Linked DNA regions of Homo sapiens: regions 1, 2, 4, 5, 6 and 7 are each linked to region 3. A link means that fine-mapping ties the variant in region 3 to the plasma level of a protein whose gene starts in the linked region. Region 3 holds a variant in brackets. A gene starts in each other region. All regions are shown on their forward strands. Region 1 holds the start of MMP9 (matrix metallopeptidase 9). Region 2 holds the start of HGF (hepatocyte growth factor). Region 3 overlaps P2RY2 (purinergic receptor P2Y2). Region 4 holds the start of OLR1 (oxidized low density lipoprotein receptor 1). Region 5 holds the start of CLEC4D (C-type lectin domain family 4 member D). Region 6 holds the start of GUCA2A (guanylate cyclase activator 2A). Region 7 holds the start of OSM (oncostatin M).

Evidence for each region. PIP is the posterior inclusion probability: the model's chance that the variant is causal. Protein levels are from antibody-based Olink assays in UK Biobank. Linkage for the fine-mapping came from a reference panel and not from the study's own genotypes, which makes the PIPs less certain.
Region 1: it holds the start of MMP9, and the variant in region 3 is fine-mapped to the plasma level of the MMP9 protein (UK Biobank, PIP above 0.99).
Region 2: HGF starts here. The variant in region 3 is fine-mapped to the plasma level of the HGF protein (UK Biobank, PIP above 0.99).
Region 4: OLR1 starts here. The variant in region 3 is fine-mapped to the plasma level of the OLR1 protein (UK Biobank, PIP above 0.99).
Region 5: CLEC4D starts here. The variant in region 3 is fine-mapped to the plasma level of the CLEC4D protein (UK Biobank, PIP above 0.99).
Region 6: GUCA2A starts here. The variant in region 3 is fine-mapped to the plasma level of the GUCA2A protein (UK Biobank, PIP above 0.99).
Region 7: OSM starts here. The variant in region 3 is fine-mapped to the plasma level of the OSM protein (UK Biobank, PIP above 0.99).

Annotation. Positions count from the first base shown.
Region 1 is chr20:46,006,400-46,010,640 of GRCh38, forward strand. It overlaps MMP9 (matrix metallopeptidase 9), which reads left to right and starts at 2,509. Exons shown (of 13, transcript NM_004994.3): 1 at 2,509-2,665; 2 at 3,467-3,699; 3 at 4,084-4,232. The coding sequence starts at 2,528.
Region 2 is chr7:81,768,128-81,772,368 of GRCh38, forward strand. HGF (hepatocyte growth factor) reads right to left here and starts at 1,920. Exons shown (of 18, transcript NM_000601.6): 1 at 1,757-1,920. The coding sequence starts at 1,844.
Region 3 is chr11:73,232,518-73,236,758 of GRCh38, forward strand. P2RY2 (purinergic receptor P2Y2) reads left to right here. Exons shown (of 3, transcript NM_002564.4): 3 at 1,639-4,241. The coding sequence starts at 1,643. The coding sequence ends at 2,776. Among named protein-coding and RNA genes, the nearest start is that of P2RY2, 16 kb to the left of the region's middle. The variant C/T (reference allele first, on the strand shown) is at 1,779.
Region 4 is chr12:10,170,760-10,174,969 of GRCh38, forward strand. It overlaps OLR1 (oxidized low density lipoprotein receptor 1), which reads right to left and starts at 1,373. Exons shown (of 6, transcript NM_002543.4): 1 at 1,243-1,373. The coding sequence starts at 1,318. It also overlaps a transcript of TMEM52B not described here.
Region 5 is chr12:8,511,202-8,515,442 of GRCh38, forward strand. It overlaps CLEC4D (C-type lectin domain family 4 member D), which reads left to right and starts at 2,302. Exons shown (of 6, transcript NM_080387.5): 1 at 2,302-2,559; 2 at 4,035-4,127. The coding sequence starts at 2,532. It also overlaps the pseudogene SUPT4H1P2.
Region 6 is chr1:42,162,232-42,166,472 of GRCh38, forward strand. GUCA2A (guanylate cyclase activator 2A) reads right to left here and starts at 2,514. Exons shown (of 3, transcript NM_033553.3): 1 at 2,407-2,514; 2 at 1,172-1,379; 3 at 459-739. The coding sequence starts at 2,481. The coding sequence ends at 675. RefSeq lists an enhancer at 2,374-3,338.
Region 7 is chr22:30,266,397-30,270,614 of GRCh38, forward strand. It overlaps OSM (oncostatin M), which reads right to left and starts at 455. Exons shown (of 3, transcript NM_020530.6): 1 at 370-455. The coding sequence starts at 403.

The DNA of each region.
Region 1 (4,241 bases), not on the chromosome of region 3:
GCAAGTGGGGGGTAGTTAACGGATTTTCCTAAAAGCCCGTGTCTGCCACCCAGATGAAGATCCTCCAGATTGGAAGATCTGTTCCTCTAAACTCATATTACTCTATGACCTCACATTCCCGAGTCTAGAATCTAGTTCCTCCTGGGTCCCCTGTCCTAGCCTCTGATTCCCTAAATGCCTGGGCCTCCTCTCTTACCTTCAGTGGGTAGCAGGGGACCAGAGGAGAAGCATCCAGGTTTTATGTGCTGCCCCTGTCACCGCATCCACCTACCCACTTCTATACCTGGGTCATCACAGTTCCCTGTAAATGGTAATAAAGATGAAAAGCTTCAGAGCCAGGCAGTTCTGGGCTTGAACACTAGTTCTGTGGATTAACTCGCTCTGTGATCACAGGCAAATTCCTTAACTCTCTGAGCCTTAGTTTCCCCCTCTGAAAACAGGAGGGATACTCATTAAACTTACCTTACAGGTGGTGAGGATGAAACGAGAGGCTTATAGAGAACTTATTACGGTGCTTGACACAGTAAATCTCAAAAAATGCATTATTATTATTATGGTTCAGAGGTAAAGTGACTTGCCCAAGGTCACATAGCTGGAAAATGGCAGAGCCGGGATGGAAATCCAGGACTTCGTGACTGCAAAGCAGATGTTCATTGGTTAGTGAACTTTAGAACTTCAACTTTTCTGTAAAGGAAGTTAATTATCTCCATCTCACAGTCTCATTTATTAGATAAGCATATAAAATGCCTGGCACATAGTAGGCCCTTTAAATACAGCTTATTGGGCCGGGCGCCATGGCTCATGCCCGTAATCCTAGCACTTTGGGAGGCCAGGTGGGCAGATCACTTGAGTCAGAAGTTCGAAACCAGCCTGGTCAACGTAGTGAAACCCCATCTCTACTAAAAATACAAAAAATTTAGCCAGGCGTGGTGGCGCACGCCTATAATACCAGCTACTCGGGAGGCTGAGGCAGGAGAATTGCTTGAACCCGGGAGGCAGATGTTGCAGTGAGCCGAGATCACGCCACTGCACTCCAGCCTGGGTGACAGAGTGATACTACACCCCCCAAAAATAAAATAAAATAAATAAATACAACTTTTTGAGTTGTTAGCAGGTTTTTCCCAAATAGGGCTTTGAAGAAGGTGAATATAGACCCTGCCCGATGCCGGCTGGCTAGGAAGAAAGGAGTGAGGGAGGCTGCTGGTGTGGGAGGCTTGGGAGGGAGGCTTGGCATAAGTGTGATAATTGGGGCTGGAGATTTGGCTGCATGGAGCAGGGCTGGAGAACTGAAAGGGCTCCTATAGATTATTTTCCCCCATATCCTGCCCCAATTTGCAGTTGAAGAATCCTAAGCTGACAAAGGGGAAGGCATTTACTCCAGGTTACACTGCAGCTTAGAGCCCAATAACCTGGTTTGGTGATTCCAAGTTAGAATCATGGTCTTTTGGCAGGGTCTCGCTCTGTTGCCCAGGCTGGAGTGCAGTGACATAATCATGGCTCACTGTATCCTTGACCTTCTTTCTGGGCTCAAGCAATCCTCCCACCTCGGCCTCCCAAAGTGCTAAGATTACAGGAATGAGCCACCATACCTGGCCCTGAATCTTGGGTCTTGGCCTTAGTAATTAAAACCAATCACCACCATCCGTTGCGGACTTACAACCTACAGTGTTCTAAACATTTTATATGTTTGATCTCATTTAATCCTCACATCAATTTAGGGACAAAGAGCCCCCCACCCCCCGTTTTTTTTTTTACAGCTGAGGAAACACTTCAAAGTGGTAAGACATTTGCCCGAGGTCCTGAAGGAAGAGAGTAAAGCCATGTCTGCTGTTTTCTAGAGGCTGCTACTGTCCCCTTTACTGCCCTGAAGATTCAGCCTGCGGAAGACAGGGGGTTGCCCCAGTGGAATTCCCCAGCCTTGCCTAGCAGAGCCCATTCCTTCCGCCCCCAGATGAAGCAGGGAGAGGAAGCTGAGTCAAAGAAGGCTGTCAGGGAGGGAAAAAGAGGACAGAGCCTGGAGTGTGGGGAGGGGTTTGGGGAGGATATCTGACCTGGGAGGGGGTGTTGCAAAAGGCCAAGGATGGGCCAGGGGGATCATTAGTTTCAGAAAGAAGTCTCAGGGAGTCTTCCATCACTTTCCCTTGGCTGACCACTGGAGGCTTTCAGACCAAGGGATGGGGGATCCCTCCAGCTTCATCCCCCTCCCTCCCTTTCATACAGTTCCCACAAGCTCTGCAGTTTGCAAAACCCTACCCCTCCCCTGAGGGCCTGCGGTTTCCTGCGGGTCTGGGGTCTTGCCTGACTTGGCAGTGGAGACTGCGGGCAGTGGAGAGAGGAGGAGGTGGTGTAAGCCCTTTCTCATGCTGGTGCTGCCACACACACACACACACACACACACACACACACACACACACACACACCCTGACCCCTGAGTCAGCACTTGCCTGTCAAGGAGGGGTGGGGTCACAGGAGCGCCTCCTTAAAGCCCCCACAACAGCAGCTGCAGTCAGACACCTCTGCCCTCACCATGAGCCTCTGGCAGCCCCTGGTCCTGGTGCTCCTGGTGCTGGGCTGCTGCTTTGCTGCCCCCAGACAGCGCCAGTCCACCCTTGTGCTCTTCCCTGGAGACCTGAGAACCAATCTCACCGACAGGCAGCTGGCAGAGGTGGGCAAACACCTAGTCTAGAGTTGGGGAGGGCTGTCCGTGAGGGTGTTGAGTGTCCCAGAGAGGATGCAGGGCCTCAGAGGAGATGCTTTAGGGGTGTGTTGGTGGTGATGGGCGTATCTGAAGAACAGAGGTGTCCAGGGTTAGGCAGTGGGGGGTCTTGTGGAGGCTTTGAGCAGTGATGGCCAGAAATGGGCAATGGGGCTTTCCTAGGTGGGAAATGGGAAATGGTTTGGGGTGGGGGAGGCATTGGAGGGTTCTGGGGTAAGCATAGGCTGGGAGTGAACAGGGGCAAACCTTATGCAGCTGTGGGGTAGAAATGGGCTAGAGGCATCCAGGGGTGAGAAGGAGCTGAGGATGTCTAAGGAGGGGAGATCCCTGGGTGGTCAGAAAGCACTGGTGTCTGGAAAGCATTTAATGCTTTATTAAATGTTAGTCCCTGCTGGGCATGACGGCTCACACTTGTAATCCCAGCACTTTGGGAGGCTGAGGTGGTAGGATCGCTGAAGCTCAGGAGTTTGAGCCCAGCCTAGGCAACATAGTAAGATCCTGTCTCTACAAAAAAATTAAAGAAATAGCCAGGCACAGTGATGTGCACCTGTAGTTCCAGCTATGCAGAAGGCTGAGATGGGAGGATCGCTTGAGTCCAGGAGGTCCAGGCTGCAGTGGGCTGATACCGTCTCTCCGAAAAAGAAAAAGAAAAAAGACTCCCTCCATGAGTGTCTGGAGGGAGTCCTTTGGCCCCAGCTGGGCAGAGAAAGGGGTCAGAGATCTGGCATGTGTGTGTCCCTTCATCCACAGGAATACCTGTACCGCTATGGTTACACTCGGGTGGCAGAGATGCGTGGAGAGTCGAAATCTCTGGGGCCTGCGCTGCTGCTTCTCCAGAAGCAACTGTCCCTGCCCGAGACCGGTGAGCTGGATAGCGCCACGCTGAAGGCCATGCGAACCCCACGGTGCGGGGTCCCAGACCTGGGCAGATTCCAAACCTTTGAGGGCGACCTCAAGTGGCACCACCACAACATCACCTATTGGTGAGCCGGGGCCGTGGGGGCAGCGGGGTGGGGCGGGGAGGCCAGGTCTGGCTCTTGGGCCAGCGGTGAACATGTCCTGTCTTGGACGCGTCCCTGGGTTTCACTATTTAATGTGTGGCCCCTGGGGAGTGTCCCCACCTCTGAGCCTCTGTTTCTCCTTCAGGGAAATGGCTCTTGCAATCCAAGTCCTCCTGCCAGGGCCATTGTGAGGGTCTAAGTAGACAAAAAAAAAAAAAAAAAAAACAGTCTGGAAGCAATTTATAGATGAGAGCGTGGACGGCAGAGAGCATTGTGTATGTTGAAGTCTCTGCGATATGGGGTGTCCCTGCTGCCCCGCTCCAGCCTTTCACTTCTGACCTCCTTCCTCTGGCTCTTACGCTACAGGATCCAAAACTACTCGGAAGACTTGCCGCGGGCGGTGATTGACGACGCCTTTGCCCGCGCCTTCGCACTGTGGAGCGCGGTGACGCCGCTCACCTTCACTCGCGTGTACAGCCGGGACGCAGACATCGTCATCCAGTTTGGTGTCGCGGGTGAGAACG
Region 2 (4,241 bases), not on the chromosome of region 3:
ATTACAAATGTATGTCTCCTGCCAAAAGTTCATAATGCATGCCGAAAACAAATAGACACTGCCTACGGTTGATCTACTGTTTGGGTTTTCCACACTGCGTTCCCCTTGCGTTAGCACAGATGAATTCAGGTAACCAGATTCTACTTAAGAACAGTGACATTTTAATCTTTAAAAATGAAAACCCTCAAAATATTAGCCATTATTTCAATTTAAGCTCAAAATCCCCTAAACCAGCAGTCATCTGTGAAGCATTTTTTTCTTCTTCTTCTTGAGATGGAGTCTTGCTCCGTTCCCCAGGCTGAAGTGCGGTGACACAATCTCGGCTCACTGCAACCCCCACCTCCCAGGTTCAAGAGAGTCTCCTGCCTCAGCCTCCCAAGTAGGTGGGACTACAGGTGCCTGCCACCACGCCTGGCTAATTTTTTGTATTTTTAGTAGAGACAGGGTTTCACCTTGTTAGCTAGGATGGTCTCAATCTCCTGACCTCGTGATCTGCCCGCCTCGGCCTCCCAAAGTGCTGGGATTACAGGCGTGAGCCACCGCACCCGACCCTGTGAAGCGATTTTAACATGACACATGTCAAGCATGATAACCTGCTTGATTTGAACTCACTGCTTTTTCACTTCTTCAGAAATCTTACCTAAATGCTTTCAGAGTGACCCTTTCCAAACAGTGTCATTTTCCAAACGGGCCACTTCACAAAATAAAAGAAAACCAGGTGGGTTGAATGATTTTCCTTTGCATTTAGAAAATTCTTGAGTTTTTTAACCCTTGTACCATATCAAAAACTAGATCAAAGGTCTGATAAATGTCATATTTACCATCTCAAAAGATACAGCCAGTTCTCTTTTTTATATTGTAAAAAGGCCATGTCTCCATCTGGGCATTTGTTCCCACTCTTTTATTCCCCTGCGCCTACCCTTGATATTCACTGCCTTCTCCCGTTGGCACCTCAGCCTCTACAATGATACAACAAAATACAGATGTTTCCTCTTGCCCTGATAACAAGAGAAACTTCCCAGAGCAGCAAACGAGATCTCTAAATCTCCAAGCAATATGAACTTTCAAGCAACTCCTCCCCAAACGGCAAATCCAAGGGAGAAAGTGGGAGACAGAGATGGGCAGTTCTGCAGCTTTAATCAAAGTCTCCGTGCACTGCAGTTTCAAAGGGCAGGCATCCGTACCCAGAAAGAATAAGATCTTTAAAAAGAGGCTTTCTCTTTCATTTTTATGATATGCAAATACTCAGAGTTTATTCTGCCTCCTCAAAATGAAAACCTGTACAAAGTCGTAATTTGGCTCCAAATGTTGACTAGGTGATGTGGAGTAGTGCATTATCATGAAAAATTGTTCTCTGGAAAAGGATGACTTCCTGCCGGACTGACCATCACTCTTGCCTCTTCAGACCAGACCCTCTCTTTAGCTTTAAACTTGTCCAAAGCAGCCAAGTTCAGCCAGTATTAGCACTTCCTCCCTATCTCATAATCCACAACTATTAGGCTAAGTGGGACGGGGCTTGGGTTGGAGGTGGAGGGGAGTTGAGGGAAAGTTAATTATCATTTTAAATGCTATTCAAACAACAACAAAAAAGAATGTCAAAAAAAGCATAATGAGAGCTTTTAGAAACCTATACTACATACTGAGTTCAGAAAGGATGCTGGGAATAGGGTAAAAAGAGGGTGTTAAAAGGAATAGGGAAGGTTAGCAGGAGAGTTAAATACTAATACTAATAATGAAGAAGAAGAAGGGAACTAACCTGCATAGGGGATGGCGATGGGGAGCAGGAGGAGATGCAGGAGGACATGCTGCAGCAGCAGGGCTGGCAGGAGTTTGGTCACCCACATGGTGCTGCTGGACGGGCTGGCGGATCCCTCTGGAGGAGATGCCTGGGTGAAAGAATCCTGTTCGGAGTCAGTGCCTAAAAGAGCCAGTCGGCTCTGAGCTGCTTTTTATTGCGATGAGCTAAGTTTGTTGTGTGATTAACTGGAAAGATCTAGGTCTGAACTCCCTCTTACGGTAAGAAACTGTTTAACAACAGCCCTTTACTCTCTTCCAGCCCCCTCCTTTCCTCACTCGCCCCCCCTTCAACAGCACCAAACAGATCCCTGCAACCCCCCCCATTCCCCGCCTCCCCCCAACCCCACGCTTAGGAAAGAAACTTACAAAGAAAAGGTCACCTGGCCTGAGGCCAGCTTCAATTTGGAAGCTGGAGCTCCAGATCCCAGTGGCTCCTATCCGAGTAAGGAAGGGAGGAGCAAGGCTGAGCCCAATGGCTAAATCAAGGCACAGGCAGGGGACCAATTCGCTCAATTTAAACAGGAAAATACATGTGTTTATATATCTATTTGGGAAAAGAGGAAGGGGAAGCAGCATAAGAAGAAAGCGAAGAGCTGTCTTTCAGCCAAATGTGCCCCAGCTCCTAATCTGTCTAGTTTTCCTGCTAGAGCAACTGAGGGATTCAAAACACTGACACAGGTTCTCTAGGGGTTTAGAGACCTGGGAGAGGTGGGAGCGGGGCCAGGGAGGAGAGCCCAGGCACGTCCAGCCCAGGTAGAAAGAGGTTAGTTAAGAAAAGGGTGTGGTATTGTGGGGCCAAAATAAGCAAGCAAAACAAAAGCACGCAGATTGTCAGATGAAAAAATTGCCCCTGCCCCATGGGCTCAGAGCAGGCAGCTTTTTTTTTTTTTTTTTTTTTTTTTTTTTTTCACAAACTGCCAAACTCACGAAATACCACACATTTACCCAAAGTATACAAAATAAACTTGTCTGATCTGACTTTTTAAGAGAAAGTCCAAGAAACAGTCATTGTCCATAGCCTGTCCCTGACAGGTAAATATGCCATGTGGACTTGTACAGGCACACACGTGCACACAACACATTCACACATGTTGGTGTGTATGTACGTATACACTGGTTAGGACTGACTTTCACCGGAAATCCCTCAAGCTGTTTGAATTCGTGAGTACTGAATATGCCTCTCTTTTCCAGCTTCATCTGCCTGTACACGACAGCCAGCTTCCCAAAGTGTAAGTGGAAAGATGAGGAGCTTGTATGGGCATGGGGGGACTCCTAGGTATCAAATCCTTGTGAGATCATTGCCCAGACCCCTCACTTGATTCAGAGAATTTGTCTTTGCACCCAGAGGTGGATGCTCTGGTAACTTTAAGCAAGAGCCTGCTTTATTTCTAATGGATGCTGAGGGATACTTGCCCCTGTATCTCTCTGAGATGGATATTAGTAGAGAACAGTGCCCCTGTCCACAGAGGAAAAGAAAGCAGGCCAAATGTGGGAATGACTAGAGCGGTGGGTAGCTGTACAGAAGTGATTGTGGGGCTGAATTAAACTCATCCACAGAACAGCCTTCCCTCCACATACCACCTTCATTTGTCCTCCAGCTCCCTTACCCCCACTTTCAGGGAAAAACAACCTGCCTGATAAGTCCCTGAGGTTGTGGGATATCTAGAGAAGCTAGGGATTAAGAGAATTCCTTTTGAGGGATCTATTTTATATGACCCGTTTCTATTGCTAATCCTTCTCTTTTATCATTTTCTCCTTACTTAAAAATCATTTGTCAGCCTCTGTCTGGTGTCCCCAGGATCCATTTTACTTTCTTTTTACTGTTCAGTAGACTTTTTGGGAAATCTCAGTTCAATGCATAGCCTGACCGTGACCCTGAATTGCTCCACTGCATCTCTTGTGCTTTATTAGGGTGTAGGGGCTCAGAAAAATGATACCCCAAATGAAGACCTCAGAATCAGCTCTCTCTGACCTTCTCCTGCTCTCCAGTCTCCGGCCCTTCATTCTCCCCCAAGGCGAGGCATAGAAACTAGAATCCCTCTTTCCCAAGGTGGCTCCTAGAAACCAGAACCCTTTTTCCCAAACCAGCCATAAAACCTAAGCATATCACTCTAACACCTCAACTTTCTGTGTGAAATCTGGCCATAAAGACATTATCTGACCTACCTTGTTTGATCGTAGCTCATAAGACCCCATTCCAAAGAAGGTCCTGCCCCATACCCAGAAGGAATGAGTACTGCACAGAGATACCAGGAAGAATCTCACCTTGCCAGGCGTCCCCACTCAGTCTGTTAGCATGAGATCATATTCCTTTTGTCCAGTTGTATTTCTCCACACCTGCCCACACTTTGTTGAACCTAAGCATAAAAATGGACAATTTCTTTTGTAACTTTGGGTCTTTGTTCTAAAGGCTCTCGGGTTGTGTAAAATTATGATCAAATAAA
Region 3 (4,241 bases):
CCTCCCACCTCAGACTTCCGAGTAGCTGGGACTACCACCACACCAGGCTAATTTTGTGTGTGTGTATTTTTAGTAGAGACAGGGTTTCTCCATGTTGGCCAGGTTGGTCTTGAACTCCTGGCCTCAAGTGATCCACCCGCCTCAGCCTCCCAAAGTGGTGGGATTACAGGTGTGAGCCACCGCGCCCGGCCTAAGTGAATAACTTTTAGAAAGCATGCTTAGTAGTAGGGTTTGAAAAATGTTAGCTCCTCCTGCCCCTTCACACTGCTAGAAAGTGCTTTTTTGTGTTTTTCTCAAACTTGCCCACCCAGGACTTCTGCTATGATTTCCAACCTGCCTCCTGGGACGTTAGGCACGTCTTTGTCTTCCAGGCCGGGATGTCTGTCCTCTACCTCCCAGCTGCGAGAGAGCTCTTAATTGGTCACCTGGGTAGGGGTAAGGAGGAGAGGGAGGGGACAAGCTGCTCCCTGGGCACTCACTGTCTGTTGGATGGTCAGTCCCCATGGGTGTGTTATATGCTCAGTGGGGACAAGGTTGGGGGGGACACCATGATACTGACGATATGCAGAGAGAAACTGGATAGGCATGGAAGAAGCTGCATTTACCACACAAAAGAAGATCCCTTGGCCCCCTATCCCTATCTCCAACCCAGATTTCCCTGGACTCTTCACGGGGGTTACTTCAGGGGGATTCCCTGGTAGCCTCACAGGCTCAGGGGCAGGACTGCTGTTGATAGATATAGAAAGTGCCAGAATAGAGGAAGATGTAAAAAGTGAAGGAATAACTGAAGAAGGAGACCCTTGGAAATACTTCCTCAAATACCAGAACACTAGGCATGGGCCCAGAGCCTCCCAGAGAGTGGGAAAATGAGCTGGAGAGAACTCTGTAATGCCTGCAGGGGGCTGTTGGATGCCCACTGGCCAGAAATGCCTCTGCAGGCAGTAGGCATTGGGTGTGAAGCAGGGCCAGCCAGCCTCAAAGGCCCCTTCCCATGAACTCAAAATTACCTGCTCTGGCACCCCCAGGTCCTCAGATTCTAGAGCTCAGAATCCTAGATCTAAAACTCTGATCCTGAGGTTCTAGAGAGGGGTAAGAAAACTTCAAGTAGCTGGGACTACGGGTGTGTGCCAGCATGCCTGGCTAATTTTTAAAAGAATTTTGTAGAGATGGGGTCTCACTTTGTTGCCTAGGCTGGGCTTAAACACCTGGTTTCTGCCTTGGCCTCCTGAGTGGCTAGGATTATAGGCATGAGCCACCGTAGCCAGCTTGAGCTAACTTTTTTTAAAGGTCAGATAGTGAATATTTTAGACTTCACAGGCCATATGGTCTTTATCACAACTACTCAACTCTTTGTAAACAGATGGGCACCGTTGTGTTCCAACAAAGCTGAATTTACAAAAGCAGACTGGATCTGGCCTTTGGACTATAGTTTGTCTACCCCTGTTCTCAAGTTTGACAATTGTGTGATCCTGATATTTATTCATTGATCTCATGCATTCTCAAGGTTCCAGAGCTTGGAGGTTCCAGGTCCAGATCCAAGTCAGATGGCAATGAAAGCCCTGGTCAGGTGGCTGTGTCAGGTCCCCTAGGGGCGCTCCGGCCACAACCCTGATGGCCCCACCCCTCCCTTCCCTGCAGGGCGATGGCAGCAGACCTGGGCCCCTGGAATGACACCATCAATGGCACCTGGGATGGGGATGAGCTGGGCTACAGGTGCCGCTTCAACGAGGACTTCAAGTACGTGCTGCTGCCTGTGTCCTACGGCGTGGTGTGCGTGC[C/T]TGGGCTGTGTCTGAACGCCGTGGCGCTCTACATCTTCTTGTGCCGCCTCAAGACCTGGAATGCGTCCACCACATATATGTTCCACCTGGCTGTGTCTGATGCACTGTATGCGGCCTCCCTGCCGCTGCTGGTCTATTACTACGCCCGCGGCGACCACTGGCCCTTCAGCACGGTGCTCTGCAAGCTGGTGCGCTTCCTCTTCTACACCAACCTTTACTGCAGCATCCTCTTCCTCACCTGCATCAGCGTGCACCGGTGTCTGGGCGTCTTACGACCTCTGCGCTCCCTGCGCTGGGGCCGGGCCCGCTACGCTCGCCGGGTGGCCGGGGCCGTGTGGGTGTTGGTGCTGGCCTGCCAGGCCCCCGTGCTCTACTTTGTCACCACCAGCGCGCGCGGGGGCCGCGTAACCTGCCACGACACCTCGGCACCCGAGCTCTTCAGCCGCTTCGTGGCCTACAGCTCAGTCATGCTGGGCCTGCTCTTCGCGGTGCCCTTTGCCGTCATCCTTGTCTGTTACGTGCTCATGGCTCGGCGACTGCTAAAGCCAGCCTACGGGACCTCGGGCGGCCTGCCTAGGGCCAAGCGCAAGTCCGTGCGCACCATCGCCGTGGTGCTGGCTGTCTTCGCCCTCTGCTTCCTGCCATTCCACGTCACCCGCACCCTCTACTACTCCTTCCGCTCGCTGGACCTCAGCTGCCACACCCTCAACGCCATCAACATGGCCTACAAGGTTACCCGGCCGCTGGCCAGTGCTAACAGTTGCCTTGACCCCGTGCTCTACTTCCTGGCTGGGCAGAGGCTCGTACGCTTTGCCCGAGATGCCAAGCCACCCACTGGCCCCAGCCCTGCCACCCCGGCTCGCCGCAGGCTGGGCCTGCGCAGATCCGACAGAACTGACATGCAGAGGATAGAAGATGTGTTGGGCAGCAGTGAGGACTCTAGGCGGACAGAGTCCACGCCGGCTGGTAGCGAGAACACTAAGGACATTCGGCTGTAGGAGCAGAACACTTCAGCCTGTGCAGGTTTATATTGGGAAGCTGTAGAGGACCAGGACTTGTGCAGACGCCACAGTCTCCCCAGATATGGACCATCAGTGACTCATGCTGGATGACCCCATGCTCCGTCATTTGACAGGGGCTCAGGATATTCACTCTGTGGTCCAGAGTCAACTGTTCCCATAACCCCTAGTCATCGTTTGTGTGTATAAGTTGGGGGAATTAAGTTTCAAGAAAGGCAAGAGCTCAAGGTCAATGACACCCCTGGCCTGACTCCCATGCAAGTAGCTGGCTGTACTGCCAAGGTACCTAGGTTGGAGTCCAGCCTAATCAAGTCAAATGGAGAAACAGGCCCAGAGAGGAAGGTGGCTTACCAAGATCACATACCAGAGTCTGGAGCTGAGCTACCTGGGGTGGGGGCCAAGTCACAGGTTGGCCAGAAAACCCTGGTAAGTAATGAGGGCTGAGTTTGCACAGTGGTCTGGAATGGACTGGGTGCCACGGTGGACTTAGCTCTGAGGAGTACCCCCAGCCCAAGAGATGAACATCTGGGGACTAATATCATAGACCCATCTGGAGGCTCCCATGGGCTAGGAGCCAGTGTGAGGCTGTAACTTATACTAAAGGTTGTGTTGCCTGCTGAGCTGTGCCCTATTGTGTGGTCGGGGGATGAGGATATGGCAGGGAAGCTTTCACCAGCCACACAAGGGTCCTTTCTCCAATCCGTTCCCTTCTGCCACCTGCCTTCTCACTAGCTGTCTCAGGAGTAGTCTCATATCAGGGATCCTCTCTCCAGGCCCCAGGTCATCCCCCACTGTAAAGCCAGTTGGCTTCTGTGCCTGACTCTGTGCTGAGCACAGAGAAAAGTCAGGTGCAGTCCCAGTCCTTGAGATTTCCCAGTTTAGGTGATGGCCAGTCATGTGCTGGTAAATGTTAAGCCATTTAACTGGAGCTCCGATTTAACTGGGAACCCCTTCTTTGTAGAACTGCCCATTTCCATGGTGCAAAAACTCTTATGGCCAAATTCAAACTATAAACATGATGTCAACTTCCTTGTAAAATTCCTGAAAATTTAACAATTGGTTCTTGCAAGCAGGTACAAGTCACTCTAGCACACCACTGGATAATGCCGAGTGGCTGGGGCTGTGAGCCAGGGGGTCAGGGAAGGGTTCCTGGAGTGGGAGACTCCTGAGCTGTAGCTTCTGAGAAAAGCAGCTCACCGGAAGAACATCCACACACAGGATGCATCCCAGGCAAAGACATGGGGCAAGAGGGCAGGGTGTGCATGAGCCATAAGCAGGCTGGACAGCTGACTCCAGGCTCAAGGCAGGGTTGGGGCTGGGTCACAAGGAGGCCAAGTTAGGGCTCCCTCCTTGCCCTGACCCTGAGGCTTCCTTTGCACTGGGGGTAAATATGAAAGAGATTCACTCCTCCTCCTGTCCATCGTCTGCCTTCTGGGAAAATCCC
Region 4 (4,210 bases), not on the chromosome of region 3:
CGTGAGCCACCGCGCCTGGCCTCATCACTCTTAAATAATGAAAAACTAAATTTTTAGAGGAAAAAGAAAATCACAGGACCCTGTGAAGGAAGGTATGTGTTCCCTTTTTCTATAGATTCTCTTTGTCCTGTGTCCTTGGTAGGCAGAGACCATTAATCCAACTGCTGCCCCTACTAGTGATTTTCCAATCATAAACCAATCCGATTCTTTGCAGTAGGTACCGATCTAACCAAGATTCTGAAAGAAAAATCAATCTCATGATTATTGTAAAATTCAGACCCTCAATATTTACTACACAAATAATGAATGAGTAAAGAAACGAATGACTATTGTTCACTTCTGGTTTTACCTATAAATATCAGCAGTTTTTATAGCAATTTAGTTCATTGGCTCAAATGTTAAATCACTCCATGCTCACACTTATGTTCTCTATTGAGAGAAATTTCTGTTTTGTTTTTGGAAATGTAATTTGGAATTTCTTTATCCAAATTTCTGACAATACTTGTCTCTCTTTCTCTCCTTATATTCTGTTCATTTTCCTCAGAACAGATATAGAATAAAAGGCAATTTACCCAGATTGTCTGTGGAATTGGGATTATGAATTAATTTATAGCTATGCAATTTAATTACTGTATGGGTCAAACAGAACTTACAATTTTTCAAAGCAGTAGTACACAACAAAATGTAACTTATGCTAAACTATACTGAATATCATTTACTTTGCCTGCATAATTCATGAGGTACTTCAGGTTTTTGTAGTGCCTGAAGGACTCTTACAGAAATTATCGTTATATACACCAGATAAATTTGGTTCCCGAGCCCTCCGATGTATAGAATTCTGGATAAATGGGAGTTTGTGGTACAGTCCTAGCTCTACCACTTATTAGCTCCGTGAAACTGGATGATGTTGTTAGTCCTCCTGATGCCCAGTTAGCTCTCTGTAAAAGGGAGATAGTAATAGTACCAATCTCAAAATGTTATTGCGAAGATTCTGAGAAATAATACTCTGAAAGTGAATAACATATAGAATAACCTGTAGTAAATACTCAGTATAAATTGTTATAAATAAGTTGTCATCATCATCATCATTATAGCCTTCTTGTTTTTCTTTTAAGTAAATGGTATTAATTCTATTTTCCCATACTTGGGTGTTTAGCTTTCTAATCCCATTCTTCGGTGAATTTACATTTTGGGGCTAACACTGGGATTCTTTCCCTGTACACATTTTCCCATCCCTAGTACCTTTAGCTTTTTTTCCATTTGACTTCTCATCAGGCTGGTCCTTCACAGTCTGGATCTTTAGGTCATCAAAAGTCATTTCCAAATTCAAGCTAAGAATGAGAGAGTGAAGCAGTCACGAACTTCAACAAACTAAAAATATGTGAGCTTCTGCAGAAGTATTTAAATAGCTACTGTTATCTAATAGAAGAATGACTCAATCATTGGTAGGAGGAAGGAGAGGCTTTGCTTCATATTGGGAAGTTCGCTGACGCAAATTCTTGAGTTATGTGTATTGCAGGTGGAGAAAGTGGTGATTCTGAAGGTGTTTCAGGATATTTCGCTAAGTAATTTATGAAAGGGAAAACTATTTTTCATGAGCATCAGAGGAGAGATATTGTACCCACTCTTCAGAGACAGAAACTGAAATTCAAAGAGAGTAAGTCACACTACATTTGTAAAAAATGTGCCAGAATTATGGGCCAAAATATTTGATTCCAATGTTTGTTTGCTAATTTCATTAGCAGACTGTTTCTATATGGTGTCTTTTACGAATCAGATATATTCTCTTTTGATTTTCACTGTTTTATCTGGCAATGGATCTAAGAATTTTGGGGTGAATCACATATGGCTCCCATTTCCAGCGATGGTGTGTCCTGGGTGATTTTAGAATTTATCTGGGGCTACTAGTTCATGCAGTGCCAGTGTAACGTAGCAGCAGAGAGCACTTTGAATGCAGAAAGAGCTAGTTTCAGTACTTTCCTTTAGTCTACAATCTTGGGAAATCTTAATACTTTGAATCTATGTCTTTGTCTGGAAATTAGGGATAATGTCTACCTGATAACATTGTTATAGGAATTCAAATGACATGTCTGGAAATTAGGGATAATGTCTACCTGATAACATTGTTATAGGAATTCAAATGACATGCTGGGTAAAAATAATAAGCTTTTTTACACTAGGTTTGTGAAAAATGTCACGTTGCTATAGGAATTCAAATGACACGCTGGTTAAAAATGACAAGCTTTGTACTTGGAGCATAATAAGAAGCCAATAAATAATAATTATTAGTATAGTACTAATATTCAGCACAGTTGAATTACCCATCAAATAATGTATTTCAGTAAAATCCATGATTGACTCATGTCACAAAGACGCTTACATGAGAGACCCATAAGTATGTCTATATGTATTTACTGATAGAATACTTTTCTATTTTCCCTTGACAACCTCCTAACCAGATATATATCTATTAGAGATGTCTTCTGAAGGAAGTATTTATAAGCAAAATGATATGATATCTGGCATTTACTTTAAATTACTCCAGGAAAAAAAAGTGCAAAGAAAAGAATACACAAAGGAAGAATGGAAAAATAAATACATAAATAAAACATATAGGAAACTATTAGGAAAAATTACCAATATTGACAGCCTAATTAGGATTCCATTTCCCTCCTCCTCCCTGTTTCCTATATTCCTTTTATTATGTGCAGAGTATTTGAGAACAAATTGAAAAAGTTGGCCAGGTGCAGTGGCTCATGCCTGTAATCTCAGCACTTTGGGAAGCTGAGGGGGGGGGTGGATCACTGAGGTCAGGAGTTCGAGACCAGCCTGGCCAACCTGTTGAAACCCTGTCACCACTAAAAATACAAAAGTTAGCTGGGCCTGGTTGCAAGCCTATAATCCCAGCTATTTGGGAGGTGGAAAATGAAAATGCTTTTCATTTTCAGTGAGCTGAGATTGTGCCACTGTACTCCAGCCTGGGCAACAGAGCGAGACTCCCTTTAAAAAAAAAAAAAAAAAAGAATTAAAAAATACTGAAACGATATCACACTGAAAAGGGCACATTATCATTTCTACAGTGACTCAGTTATTTTGGATGCCATGAATATTATAGAACATAAAGTGTTTACCATTTCAACCATTTTTAGGTGTACTGTTCAGTGGCATTAAGTACATTTACATTGTTGTGCAGCCATCACCACCATCCATCTCCAGAACTTTTCATCTTCCCCAACTGAAACTCTATACCCACCAAGCAATAACTCCTGTGATGGTGAATTTCATGTGTTTTGTTTGTTTGTTTGTTTGTTTGTTTTTGAGATGGAGTTTCACCCTTGTTACCCAGGGTGGATTGCAATGGCATGATCTCGGCTCACTGCAACCTCCGCCTCCTGGGTTCAAGCAATTCTCCTGCCTCAGCCTCCTGAGTAGCTGGGATTACAGGTGCCCGCCACCCCTCCCGGCTAATTGTTTTGTATTTTCAGTAGAGACAGGGTTTCACCATGTTGGCCAGGCTGGTCTTGAACTCCTGTCCTCAAGTGATCCGCCTGCCTCAGCCTCCCACAGTGCTGGGATTACAAGCGTGAGCCACCGTGCTGGCCTTCTGTGTCTTCTTGACTGGGTCATGGGGTTCCCAGACAGGATGCTTTTAAATGAGATTAACATATTAATCAGAAGAGGAAAGTAGATTTCGCTGCATAATGTAGGTGGGCCTCATCCAAAAGTTGAAGGCCTAAAGAACAAAAAGCTTCTAACCTTCCCCCAAATAAGAAAGAATCCCCCAGCTGTCTATGGACTGGAACTCAGCCATCAACTCTCCCAGTTCTCCACTCGCTGGCCGAGTCTGGCAGCCCACACTCCAGATTTTAAATTACCAGGCTCTATAATCATACAAGCCAATTCCTTATAATAAACCTATTTCTATGTATGTACACAGCGTATTGATCCTCTTTCTCTGCACAGACCTAATACAAATCCCAATTCCTTTCTCCTTTCTTGGAAACCACCGTTCCATTTTTTTGTTTCTATAAATTGGTTTATTTTAGGCACCTCATACTGGTGGAATCATATAATATTTGTCCTTTTGTATCTAAATTATTTTATTTAGCATTATGTCTTCAACAATTATCAATGTGGTAGCATGTGTCAGAATTTTGTTCCTTTTAAAGTCTGTATAATATTCCATTGTATGTATAAACCACATTCTACA
Region 5 (4,241 bases), not on the chromosome of region 3:
TGGTGTTTGGTTTTCTGTCCTTGTGATAGTTTGCTGAGAATGATGGTTTCCAGCTTCATCCATGTCCCTACAAAGGACATGAACTCATCATTTTTTATGGCTGCATAATTTTCACATAGCTTCGTTTCTACAATCACAACATTCCTGAGGTAAACAGGCAAGGTGTAATCATTCTTTTTTTACAGAGGGAGAACAAGGAACTTAGGGAAATCAAAATGGGGACACTAACAGGATTTCTGTGGAAATTTAAGTAAATGAGAATTTGTAGTAAATTTTTTATCCTAAAACAAATAACTCACTTTGGCCGAAAAATGGGATGTTACCCAAGGTCCCCTACTGGGCCGGCGGAGAAAAGGACCTGCCTCCTACAGGGGCACAAACAAGGCAGACTAGGACCCAGCAGTCGGCCAAGGCCCAAGGGTCTCCAGTAAGGAAAATGTAAAATGTGAGTGTGTGAGACTGGCCTAAGATATAGGAAGAGCAGTAAAGAGAAGAAAACTGACGAGCAGAGGGGGAAAAGAATTATTAAACATGGTCAAGGAGCAAGGAGCACGACAAAGCCTCAGGATTTCTTCAAGGGATACTGCTGTGCCAGGTCTCAAGGGCAGAAGGATACAAGCACAAGACACCAGGGCCACCAAGCTGATGGGGTTACTGAGCCTCTGGACAGCACCTTCTGATAGGAAGCAAGGAAGCACACTACAAAGGCTGCAATCCTGGAGGCTGAGACAGTCAAGAGGGAGTGGAAGGGCCTCTGCTGCTCTGGGAAGGTATCTTATAGGGCAAATAAGCTCTTACTGTGTGCCTAAGAGAAAGGAAGAGGGAAGCGAGGCAGGTGTCATGGCCTTAAGAACTTTCTAGAGGTTTCTATTTATTGACATTTGACCTAGACCTCTTCATGAGCAAGGCGCAGCCTTGGGCTACAGGTAGGAAAGTCAGCATCCTACTCTCTCCTCAATTCCATCTGTTAATCCACCAACCCAAATCCCTCCCACCCCCACCTGAAGTCCAAATAAGGTAAAATGATAAAATGATGTGCTGTTCTCTCAACAGTTGGCTGAGTCTGAATTGGAGGGTAGGAAGCATTTGAAGCTCTGCCCATTTAGTTCCAGAACAAAAAATAAGCAGAGGCAGGAGGTGGAGAGCAAAGACGCTGGCAGCCCTGCGTCTGGTCTTTATAGCTGTGTCTTTGGATTTGTAGGCCACTCCTCAACTTTTCAGCTCCCGCACGATTCCTTAGGGCAAGCGACCAGTGGTTGACACCGCATATACACCTGGCTTAAAGTTATTGACTCGCTGCCAGTTGGAGACCCAGCTGTCCTCTGGACTCATCATCGCAATGATTCCATCAAAGGAGGAGCTGGTGCAGCCATATAGCATCTCTCAGTTACCCTTCATCTGTAGATATGCATCTCAATAGTCACAACCATCATATTCAAACTGGTCTATAGTACCTTGACCAGTGAACACAGCAAACAGGCCCACAGATGCCACAGGTCCTTCAGCACCGTCTCCAGGGCCATCTTCTCCAATGAGAAGAGCAACAGCAAGGAAGATGGCCACAGCCTGAGCACCCGCAGGAAGTAAACAGCTCGTTAGCCGGGTCTCTTCTTATAATTCCATCATGAGGACCCCATTCTCATGACCTCATATTAAACCTAATTACCTCCCAAACTTTTGACCTCCAAATGCCATTACGTTGGAGGGTAGTGCTTCCACCAATGAATTTTGAGGAGATACAGACATTCACTCCCTAACAGTGCTATAAATGAAGTCAGGGACCCTGATGGTGTCTTTATCACAGAATCTTACATTTTCTTTGTCTTTGCCTTAACACAACTCTTTTTGCTCACCTAGAAAGTTCTTGGGATTTAATTAACTGCTCTATCATCTCTTCCTCAACTCGAAAACAAAGGTTGCTGTGTCTTCACATGCCATGTACACACAAGGTATACTTTAAAAGTTTTTGTTCATTGTTCACATTGTCTTTTGCTCTCTTAGACTCAACTTTTTATTCAGTCCAGAGAACTTTTTAGTATAGAACTCACCCCAAGAATATAACTGCCTTTGAAAATATAATATTCACAAAAAGAATTTAAAAAGAGGGGACATTTACTAAATTTTTATTGGGCATAACAATTATTTCTTTTAGGGCGTTGCTAAATTTTTTGTCTAAATGAAAAAAAAAACAAATTGAGAAATTCCACATTTCACACTGATCTAGTGATCTCAACATACTTGTGGGTTTCTACTAACTGTTGTTTGGTATTGCTTTCTCAATTTCCTTTTTTTTTTTTTTTCGCCTCATCTCCCGGAATGTATCAAAGGAAACCCCTGTCTTTGAAAAAGACTTCTTTTGAGCTAACTTTCTTATACTGGTACCTTTCTAATCTCACTACAATATGTAACATTGGTGTTCGATCTCAAGTATTTCTGAATATATTCCCCTATCCACAGAAATATACTCTGGGGGAAAAAAAATAGAACAAATTCTTGCCGTCCTGACCATTGAACAAGAGACTAATTAGACAATGGGGCTAGAAAAACCTCAAAGTAAACGTGAGTACTTTCTCTCCTTTCCATTTCAAAGAAGCAGATGGAATTATACTAATTTAAAACATATGAATTGATGGTAGTTTTAAAGATTGTTGATGATGACGGGGAGAAGGAGGTGGAAGGAAATAAAAATGACGTTGGTGAAGAGGAAGGACATAGAGTCAAATAAGTTGGATAACAGAAACTTCTTTATAAAATGTATATTGGACCAAGAGGGGAGATAAAATATATAAAAGAGAAATAAGATGAAAAGAAAGAGAGTAATATGAGAAGATTCTTTTAAAGAAAAAAGAGAAAAGGAAGATGTAGAAAAAGCATTTAGGCTTATGCTGTATCAGAGGCTCTAACTGTCCCATTTTATGTTTGACTTAAGTGACACCAGTGGATTTGTATTGTGATAATATTAAATAATATTTTTGATAGATATATAGAACAAGTGTGGAAATGTTTAAATTAAAATTAAAGTTTTACTTTATCTCATCACCCTACCATGGCAAACTGTAATCACAGTGTGATCCTATTGAATTACCTTTTTAGGTAACAATATTTCTTAGAGATTTTTTGCATCAATATATACTGATTACATGCTTATTTAATTACTATACAGAATATCATTGTGTGAAGGGACCATAATTTAGAATTTCCACTATTGATAATATACATGTAAATATTAGATTACAGTATGTGTTTTCTATTTTGAGAAGTACTGCAATGAATATCTTTTAACATAAACAAGCTCAATTATTTCTATAGAATAGACACCTGTAATTGAAATTATTGTGGCAAATGAAATGCATTTAAAAATGGATAAATGCCACTAAATTGATCCTTCTAAAAGGCATTCCTAATTTTCCAGTCCAGGCAGCAGCATTTATTTTCTCACTAAGAGTGCTTATTTCCCCTCAGCCTTGCCAACACTGCATGTACTTAATTTACTTAAAAAATCTGATGTGTGAAAAGTTATACCACAATCTTTTCGTTTACAGTTCCCTGATTGGGCATATTTTTGTTTGATTAGTGGCTATTTATAACTTCAGCAAATTAAAATTTCAGCAAATTTCCTGCTCAGAGTTTTGCTCAGTTTTCTAGTTGATTTTGAAATACTTTATCCAGTGCGGATATTAATATTATGAGAAGACTTTCCTTTCATACGTTCCTTGACTCTAACATTGCTTGTGTTATATAGAAGTTTTAATTTTTATGTACTCAAATTATCTATTCTAATGGCTCTTGGGTTTTGTATCTTACTTATAAAATTCTTTTCATTTCAAAATTACCAAGAAATTTTACATTTTTCTTTCTTATTTATTTATTCATCAATAAGCTCTAAAATTGATTTATTTGGAGAAAATATTTATGCTCTTCTCTAGATCTGAAATATTTGGTTTGCTGTCACTTTTAGATTGCTCCTTGGTAGAATTAGCTTTCCTAGCTTGTAGCTGAGAGGAGGTTAATCTCTATTTTTCTTTTGGTCCTAGTGGAAGGAGGCATGCATCCCCAGCTGATACCTTCGGTTATTGCTGTAGTTTTCATCTTACTTCTCAGTGTCTGTTTTATTGCAAGTTGTTTGGGTAAGTTATTAGCCAAAGTAGAACTCTTCTTGAATTATTATTTCCAAACAACTTTTCTGAAGTTGCTCTAAGCCTTTTGGTATCTTGATTTTTCCTAGCATAACCTATCTATAA
Region 6 (4,241 bases), not on the chromosome of region 3:
GGACAGTAGTGTGGGAAGACGGGCAGTGGAGAGGTGAGCAGCAGCAGAGGAAATGGCAAGAGGTGTGGTTTGGGATGTGGTCAGGGCTGGAGGCCACACTAGCATGGCTGGTGGGAGCCAAGTCCTTGAATACCCAAGAGTTTGGTGCCAGTCTTCTAGTGGGCCAAGTGCCTGTATTGGTTGTCCAAACCAGCTCAGACTGGCTCCCGTGCTCACATGTGGCTCAGTGAACTTGGTGACCTCAGGAGATGTGAAATAAAAGCAAACCCTCCCCACCACCCGCTGCCTTGGTGGTTTGGAGATCCAGATCCTCTCCACGCCTCTGTGTTGTGGCAGCCCCAGGGACAGTGAGCAGCTTAGCAGGGAGAGTGGGGTCCTTCGCTTAGTACATTACATCCCGAGCTTCCAGGGCAGGATAGACTAGGGGATGAAGGAAGGAAGGAAGGCAACACCCAGAGTACTCTGGAATCTGGTTTATTAGCTGGGGGTTGAAGTGGCAGGGAAGGACAGTGTTGGGGCGAGGCCTCCAGTCACCCAGTTCCTCCCCGGGCTGCTCCTCCCGACTGGACCAGGGTAGGTTGAGCTGCTGGGAGTGGAGTATCATGGGTGGCCCTTTCTGCAGGAGAAAAGAGCTTCCCTGCTGCGGAGGGGAGGCAGGCAGTGGGCAAGCCCCCCTAGCATCCGGTACAGGCAGCGTAGGCACAGATTTCACATGTGCCCGGGTCCTCAGCGATTTCCTCTGCACAACAGAGATGGAGCCTCGTGAGAACCAGCATTTCCTCGCGAGGCCCCTGCCGCCCTTGGCCCAGAGCTTGTACGTCACCACCCAGCCCCAGGAGAATCTCAGCAGGCCCGTACTCTGACCTACTGGGCTTTTCGCCCCAAACCAGGGCACACAGACCACTCAAACCAACCAATCAAAGCAGAGATTCCACCAGAAAGAGAGGAAACTAAGACCAGATGAATGGTCTTAGTTCCCAAACCTCAGCAGTTACAACTTGGAATTGAAGTGGGCATGGAACAGACCCACCAATCAGAGCCAAGCTCCCTAGTTCCACCAGTCAGAGCTGAGCCCTTCCTCCAAATCCCACCAATCAGAGCACATCTCTTCCTCAAGTGCCACCACAGTATTCCCGAACCCCACCAATCAGAGAGGAAGGAGGCTGCTCACCCAGCCTCTGAAGTATCTCCTGGGCATTGGGCTCCTTGCAGAGAGGCTTGAGTTCTTCTGGAAAGTTCGGGTTGCTACAGAGGATGGGAACCACAGGTTCACCAGGGATGGGTGCAAAGTTCCTGAGTTTCCCAACCCTGGGCTCCTGGGGCTCCTGGAGGTCTTTGAGCTTCTTCACTGACTCCAGAGAAAAGGAGAAATTTCCATCCTGGAAGAGAGAAGCCCAGAGCATGAGGCCAGGCTGCAGCCTGCTTCCTGGCTGTGCCCCCCGTGCTGGCCCCGGTCCAGCCCAGTGGTGCTCACAGGCAGTGTTCGTGGCATATGGGAGCCAGGCGATCCACAGTGGGGCACTGTGAGGGGCAGAGTTCAGGCCCCACGTCCTGGCTTGGCTCCGTGATGCTGGACACTCTGGAACCCGCAAATTCTGCATGTTGTATGGGGAATGGAGAAAATGGGTGTGAAGCTCCAGGAACACCATAGGTGCCTAATGAGTAGGAGCCAGTGTGCTGATTTTTAGGGAGAGGCAAAGGACCAGCACCCAGGCATCGTAGTTCCACGTGGCCAAGCCCAGGCTGTCTTTCCCCTGCCTGAGAGCGGTGCGGCTGATTACTGGGCCCCCAGCTCCAGCCTGCAGCCTGGTTTTGGTTTGAGAAGCAATAAAAGGCCTCCCGGAATCTGGCTTTGATAGAGATCAGGGCCCCCGCTAGGTGCCAGCTTGGCCTGTCGCCAGCATTGGCACTGGTAGGCATACCCATCTGTCAGGACCTCCAGGGTGTCCATGTGGTTCCTGGGACCCACTGAGGAGTAAGGTCTGGATTTAAATCCAGCTCCTGCACTTCCCACAGCCATGTGCCCATGGCCTGTTACAGAACCTTTGTGAGGCTCAGTTTTCCCCTCTGTAAAATGGGACTAATGATCCCTTTCTTCCAGGTTGATAGTGGAGCCACAGTGAGGGGCTGGGGAAGGAGCCGGCACATAGGACACTCAGTAAATTGGCCAACTCCCCGCCTTCCCCATATGGTTATTCCTCTTCCCTCCACTGGGTTTCTTTCTCCTCCAAAGTTGAAGGGAAAGGTGTGTGTGTGGCTGGACTGAGCAGGAGCTCCTCGAAGAAGGCCAAGCCTGGGACACACACCCTCAATCCAGCCCCAAAGAGGAGGTACTCTCTCAGGGGACCAGACCTGGGCACTAGGGGCAGGGAGCCAGCTGGGCCGGGGTAGGGACACAGGACTCACCTGCACGGTGACCCCTCCTGCCAAGGCGGCCCAGGCCCCAAGGAGGCACAGTGCGGAGAGCAGGAAGGCATTCATGGCAGCAGTGCCCGAGAGAGGGGTGGCTGTTCTGGATGCCAGGGGGAAGCGGCGGGACTTTTAAAGAGGGCAGGTTACTGAGTAACCTGGAAGCCTCTGTCAGTCTCATCTGCTCACCTGTCAGGCCTTATCAGATAAGGCTCGAGACAGCCCTAGGAGATAAGAGCCAGGCAGGGGGGGCCCCGGCCCCTCCCTGAGCACCTACTTTGACCCACAGCCGGGCTGGGTCCTGCATTCATTCACCAACAAGGCACATTCACTCACGACTGCCCTGTGCTGCTGTGTGGGGCCGGCAGACCCTGCCCTTGAGGAGGGGGGCCCAGCCCGACAGTGAAACGCAGGGCGATTAGGGTGGGGTGATCCTAGGATGAGGTGACGGGGCTGCACTGGGGGCTGAGCTCTGGAGAATGGGTGGAAGTTTTCCCAGAGAAGGGACTGAGGACAGAAGGCCATTTCATGCCAAAGGGACAGCCAGGAGGTGAGACGGGCCTGGAATATTCAGGGAAATGTGAGAAATTCCACGGGGGAGGCTGCAGGGCAAGTCAGGGTCTGGGTTTGATTGCCGCGACCTCAAGGAAGCCCTCCGCACAGCCTGGGTTCCGTTCCACCTACTGCCCAGTTGTGAGGCGTGTGAACTTGGGCCAATGCTTTCCCCTCTCTGAGTCTCGTTGTCCCTTGTGTCCCCTGTGGGAACCAAAAATAATACCTACCTCATGGGGTAGGTGTGTGGTAGGCATTACTGTTTGGAGAATCAAGTGAGGTTTTAAAAACATTTAGCTCAATGCCTGGCACACAGAAGGTGCTCAGCAGAGGTCCATTCCCATATTATTAGCAGCCACAGCAGCTCCTGGTCCTCCCTGGCCCCTCTGGTGACCTCCTGCCTGTCTGAGTCACAGGCTGTCCCCATCCTGTGCTGGTCCCCATCCTGTCCTGCCTGCCCTGCAGCCTCAGGGTGTCCTCGAATGAGCTCCTCCCCAATCCGCCCGCCCCCCTTGCCCCTGCAGATACAGTCCCCTTTCCGCGGATCTCACTGGGGAATTGCTTGGGTGTGCCCGCGCCCCTATAGACTCTGACCCCATTCAGACTGCGCCCTCAGGGCAGCGTGCATTCACTGTGTGCTGTTGTGAGCAGGAATCCCCAGGACACAGGAGAAAGGGTAGCCCTGGGATTGTCATCTTTCTACTCAGCCAACCTGGCCCGATGCCAGGACAGCCCTAGGGCGGGAGGTTGGGCAGGAATTCCTGGGTGGGGAGAGTCAACACTGAAGAGGGAATTGGAGAGAGCAGGGCCTGACCAGGAGGGAACTGCAGGGACAAGGCCCTCAGGGAGGGGCAGGTAGCTCCTGGCCCAGCTCCCAGGGCAGTCCTCACAGCTGCACTGGATTTCCCACCCCTTTCTGGTGAGTGTGTGTGTGTGTGTGTGTGTGTGTGTGTTAAGGGGGGGTGTGTCTGCGGAGATGTGTATGTCTGTGTATGCCAAGGTGTCTGTATATACCCTGATGGGTGTGTGTAGCCAAGGTGTGTTTGTATGTGTGCTTGTGCTGAAGGTGTGTGTGTGCTGAGGCATGTGTGTACACTGAGGAGTGTATGTGTATATATGCTGAGGTGTATGTGTGTGTATGCTGAGGGGTATATGTGTGTCCGTGTACACCAAGGTATCTGTGTCTGTGCAAGGAGGTGTGCATATATACATCGAGGTGTGTGTGTGTCAGTGTGTATATACACAGGCGCGTGTGTGTACACCGAGGTGTGTGTGTTTGC
Region 7 (4,218 bases), not on the chromosome of region 3:
CTGGAGGCCCCACAACCCCTCCACACCTCACACCACTTCCCTGCCCAGCTTCTGAGCCTCCCTCTCCTGCCCAGCCTCTTTGCCCATCCTATTCTCTCACCCCCTGGTTCCCAGAGTTGCCTCTACATCTTGACATCACCTCCCCCTGGAAGCCTTCCAGGGATGCCCCTTCTCTACCTGTGGAGATGCCAGGTTCTCAGTGGACCACTCTCTCTGCCTGACCTCCTGGCTCTCTCCCCTTCTCAGCATCCTTCTGCCTGGCGCCTGGCCTCCCCAGTTCCCGGAGGGCAGAGGGTGCCTCTGCTCCCCACCGGCACCCGTGGGCAGACCCAGCAGGCGGGTTCTGGCGGGGAGGAAGGAAGTACTTACTGAGCAGCGTCCTCTGTGTGAGCAGTACCCCCATGCTGGGTGCCCGTGCTCCGGCCCGCGCCCGCTGGGGGTGACACCTCTCGGCTGGGAGCCCTGCAGGCTGGCAGCCACTTTATGCCCGCTGGGGCGATTGGCCAACACCTCATGAGGTGGGTGGGGATGGGGAGGGGGGAGGGCAGGCCTTCTGGGAACATGACCCCAAAAACCAAAATTTCCACGGGCGGCCAATGGGCGCAGGGCGCGGTGTATGCCCGCTCCTCCTCCTGTTTTCTTCGAATTCGTTCTTCGAGGTCAGCCCTACGCCCAAGGATGATGTAAAACCGCAGCCTCAGCCTTCCTAGGGTGAGTGGGGAGGAAAAGGGTCCATGCCATCTTCAGGGAACTGGGCCAGGGATGGGCAGGAGGGACTTCGAGCTGGGCCTCTGGAGGCCCCAGGCCAGTCTTGGCCCAGGAGCCATTGGCCTCACAGGACACGGTGGTTGGGGGCTGAGGGGAGCGAGACATCTTCCTTCTTGAGTGCCCTTCCTGCCCTCTCGCCGGGGCTGTTGGGACATCTGTGAGCGGAAACCACCGGGCTCTGGGCACAGAGCCAGACGCAGGCTGGCAGCCCCGAGATTGTGGTTCAGGCCCCAGGACCAGCATCCCCCAGCCCGGCTCCCGACGGTCTCCTTTCCCCCATCGTGCACCCTCTGCCAGGCCCACTCCCCAAAGCCAGGCCTTGTCTTTGTAGGCAGGCTCCACTGGGGAGAACTGGACACTTGGAGCAAGAGAAACAGGAGGCCAGGGTTCAAGCCTGCTGAGGTGCTGTGTGACCTGAGGCAAGTCACTTAACCTCTCTGGGCCTCAGAGACCCACAACTATAAAATGAGGAGGAGAAAAGCCTTTCCCAGCCCACCTCACAGGGTTGCTGCCAGCATGGACATAAAAGGAAAAGACCTCTGAAGGAAAAAGCAAAGATGAAGGTCTGATTCCAAGTATTAGCTGTCGAGGGGGCGGGATGGGGGAAGGAGGAGATGGGGAAGCTGTGAGCTCAGAGGGGAAGCCGGGGAGGGGGAGTTGCCGCCTTGACAGTTGGGGACCAGGTTTCACTTTCTCTGAAAGATAGCGATCTTAGGTTGGTCCTCTGCGAAAGGGCCCTGGGAACAGCGCCTCCCTAGTCAAACTGCTACTTTACTGTGGGGTAAACTGAGGCCTGGGTGAAGGCAGACAGGGAGGCCAAGAGGCTGGCCCAGGCCTATAGACCCTGCCTGGTCAGCACATCTCCCAGGCCCAGAGGAGGGTCCTTGGCCTGCACCCTAAGAAGCCCGGGTGGGAGGAGGCCCTCAGGAGTCTGGGGAGTCAGGGTGGGACTCCTGGAGGCTGCCAGGGAGGCCTGAGCTGCTCCAGCTGGAGGGAGCATGGGGTCTGGGGCGCCTGAGCAAGGAGAGCTGGGGCAGCCAGAAAGGAGGAGGTTGGATGCACCCCTGTCCATGCCTGCTCCCGATGCCCACTGTGGCCACCAAGGCAGTTGCCACCCATTCTCCCCATCACTCATTTATTCATTCGACAAACCTTTATTTGGCTCCATGCTGCACCAGCCACTCCCAGGTCTGAGGATCACGTAGTAGGCAAAAATAGGCGACCCCACGCCCAGGAGGCTGCTCTTCAGCCCCTACCCACTCCCCGGCACCCAGGCTGGGACTCACCACACCAGGCCTCATACCTCCCCCTCACCACCCCCAGGGGCCAGTTCTGGATTCTCATCCTGAGAATGTCGCTTCCGCTGAAGTCCTCATCTCTGTGCCCACCCCCACAATGCTGTTTCCTGGGGCCATGCCAAGAGGGGATCCTTCTCCATTTCACATCCCTGATCTCGTCTTTTTTTCTCTTTTTTTAAATGCAGGATCTTGCTCTGTCACCCAGGCTGGAGTGCAGTGGCGCCATTGTAGGTAGCTCACTGTGGCCTCCAGCTCCTAAGCTGAAGCAAGGCTCCCCGCCTTAGTCTCCTGAGTAGCTGAGACCACAGGCATGCATCACTATGCCCAGCTAATTTTTTTATTTTTTGTAGAGACGGGGTGTCACTATGTTGCCCAGGCTGATAACAAACTCCTGGGTTCAAATGATCCTCCTGCCTTGGCCTCCCAAAGTGCTGGGATTGCAAGCGTGAGCCACAGCACCCAGCCACCGATCTCATCCTGCAACAGCCAGGGGAGAGAAGCCGCTGGGCAGTGACACCTCAGCTCACTTCAGTGAGGAGCTCGAAGCTCTGGGAAGTTTAGGGGCTGGCTCAAGGAAGGAGCGCCAGATCTGAGCAGAGGGGTCTAGGCCATTTTCAGCTGTGGCTGACCGACCACCACGCTTGGTGAGAAACAGCCACATGCCTTTATCTTATTCTATCTATCCTGTGGTCCAGGGAGGCCGTGCTGTCTCCTCATGGCAGAGAGAGGAGGTTGCTTTGTCTGAGGTCACCTATGAATAGTTAAGAGGAGAGGGGCATTTGGCCAGGCATGGTGGCTCACGCCTGTAATCCCAGCACTTTGGGAGGCCGAGGCAGGAGGGTCATTTGAGCCCAGGACTTCGAGACTGTGTCTTTACAGAAAATGTAAAAATAAATTATCCAGACATCGTAGTGCATACCTGAAGTCCCAGCTACTAGGGAGGTTGAGGCAGGAGGATCGCTCGAGCCCCGAAGGTTGAGGCTGCAGTGAGCCATTATCATGCCACAGGACTCCAGCCTGGGTGACAGAGCAAGGCCCTGTTTAAAAAAAACAAAAAACAAAAAACCCACCAAGAAAAGAAGGCATTCAAACGAGGCCCAAAGACCATACTCTTTGCACATAGTTAATGAGGGTGTCAGGCACAGGGCCCAGGGCTCAGAGTCACTGAAGGTAAGGAGAGCAGGTAGATTACATTGCTAGGACTCCCATAACAAAGTACCACAGACTGGGGGGCTTACGTAACAGAGATTTATTTTCTCACAGTTCTAGAGGCTGAAGTCTGAAATCAAGGGCTGGTTCCCAAGGCCTCTCTCCTTGACTTGTAGATGACTGTCTCTCCCCGTATCTCCACATCATGTTCCTTCTGCTTGTCCGTGGCCTAATCGATTTTTTTTTTTTTTTGAGACAGAGTCTAGCTCCGTCACCCAGGCTGGAGTGCAGTGGCACGATCTCAGCTCACTACAACCTCTGCCACCTGGGTTCAAGCGCTTCTCCTGCCTTAGCCTCCTGAGTAGCTGGGATTACAGGCGTGTGCCACCACGCCAGGCTAATTTTTGTATTTTTAGTAGAGACAGGGTTTCGCCATGTTGTCCAGGCTGATCTCGAACTCCTAACCTCAGGTGATCCACCTGCCTCAGCCTCCCAAAGTGCTGGGATTACAGGAGCGAGCCACCGCGCTTGGCCTTATCTCTTCTTATGAGGACACCATTCACATTGGATTAGGGCCCACTCACATTTTACCTTAATTATTCCTTTTTTTTTTCTTTTTCGAGACAAAGTCTTGCTGTGTTGCCCAGGCTTAAGTGTACAGTGGTGCTTTCATAGCTCACTGCAGCCTTGAACTCCCGGCCTTAAGCGAGCCTCCTGCCTCAGCCTCCAGAGTAGCTGGGATTACAGGTATGTGCTACCACACCTGGCCAATTTTACCTTAATTACTTCTTTTTTTTTTTCTTTTCTTTTTTTTTTTTTTTTGAGATGGAATCTCACTCTGTCACCCACGCTGGAGTGCAGTGGCGCCAGCTTGGCTCACTGCAACCTCTGCCTCCCAGGTTCAAGCAATTCTCTGCCTCAGCCTCCCGAGTAGCTGGGACTACAAGTGCCCACCACCATGCCTGGCTAATTTTTGTATTTTTTTAGTAGAGACGGGGTTTCA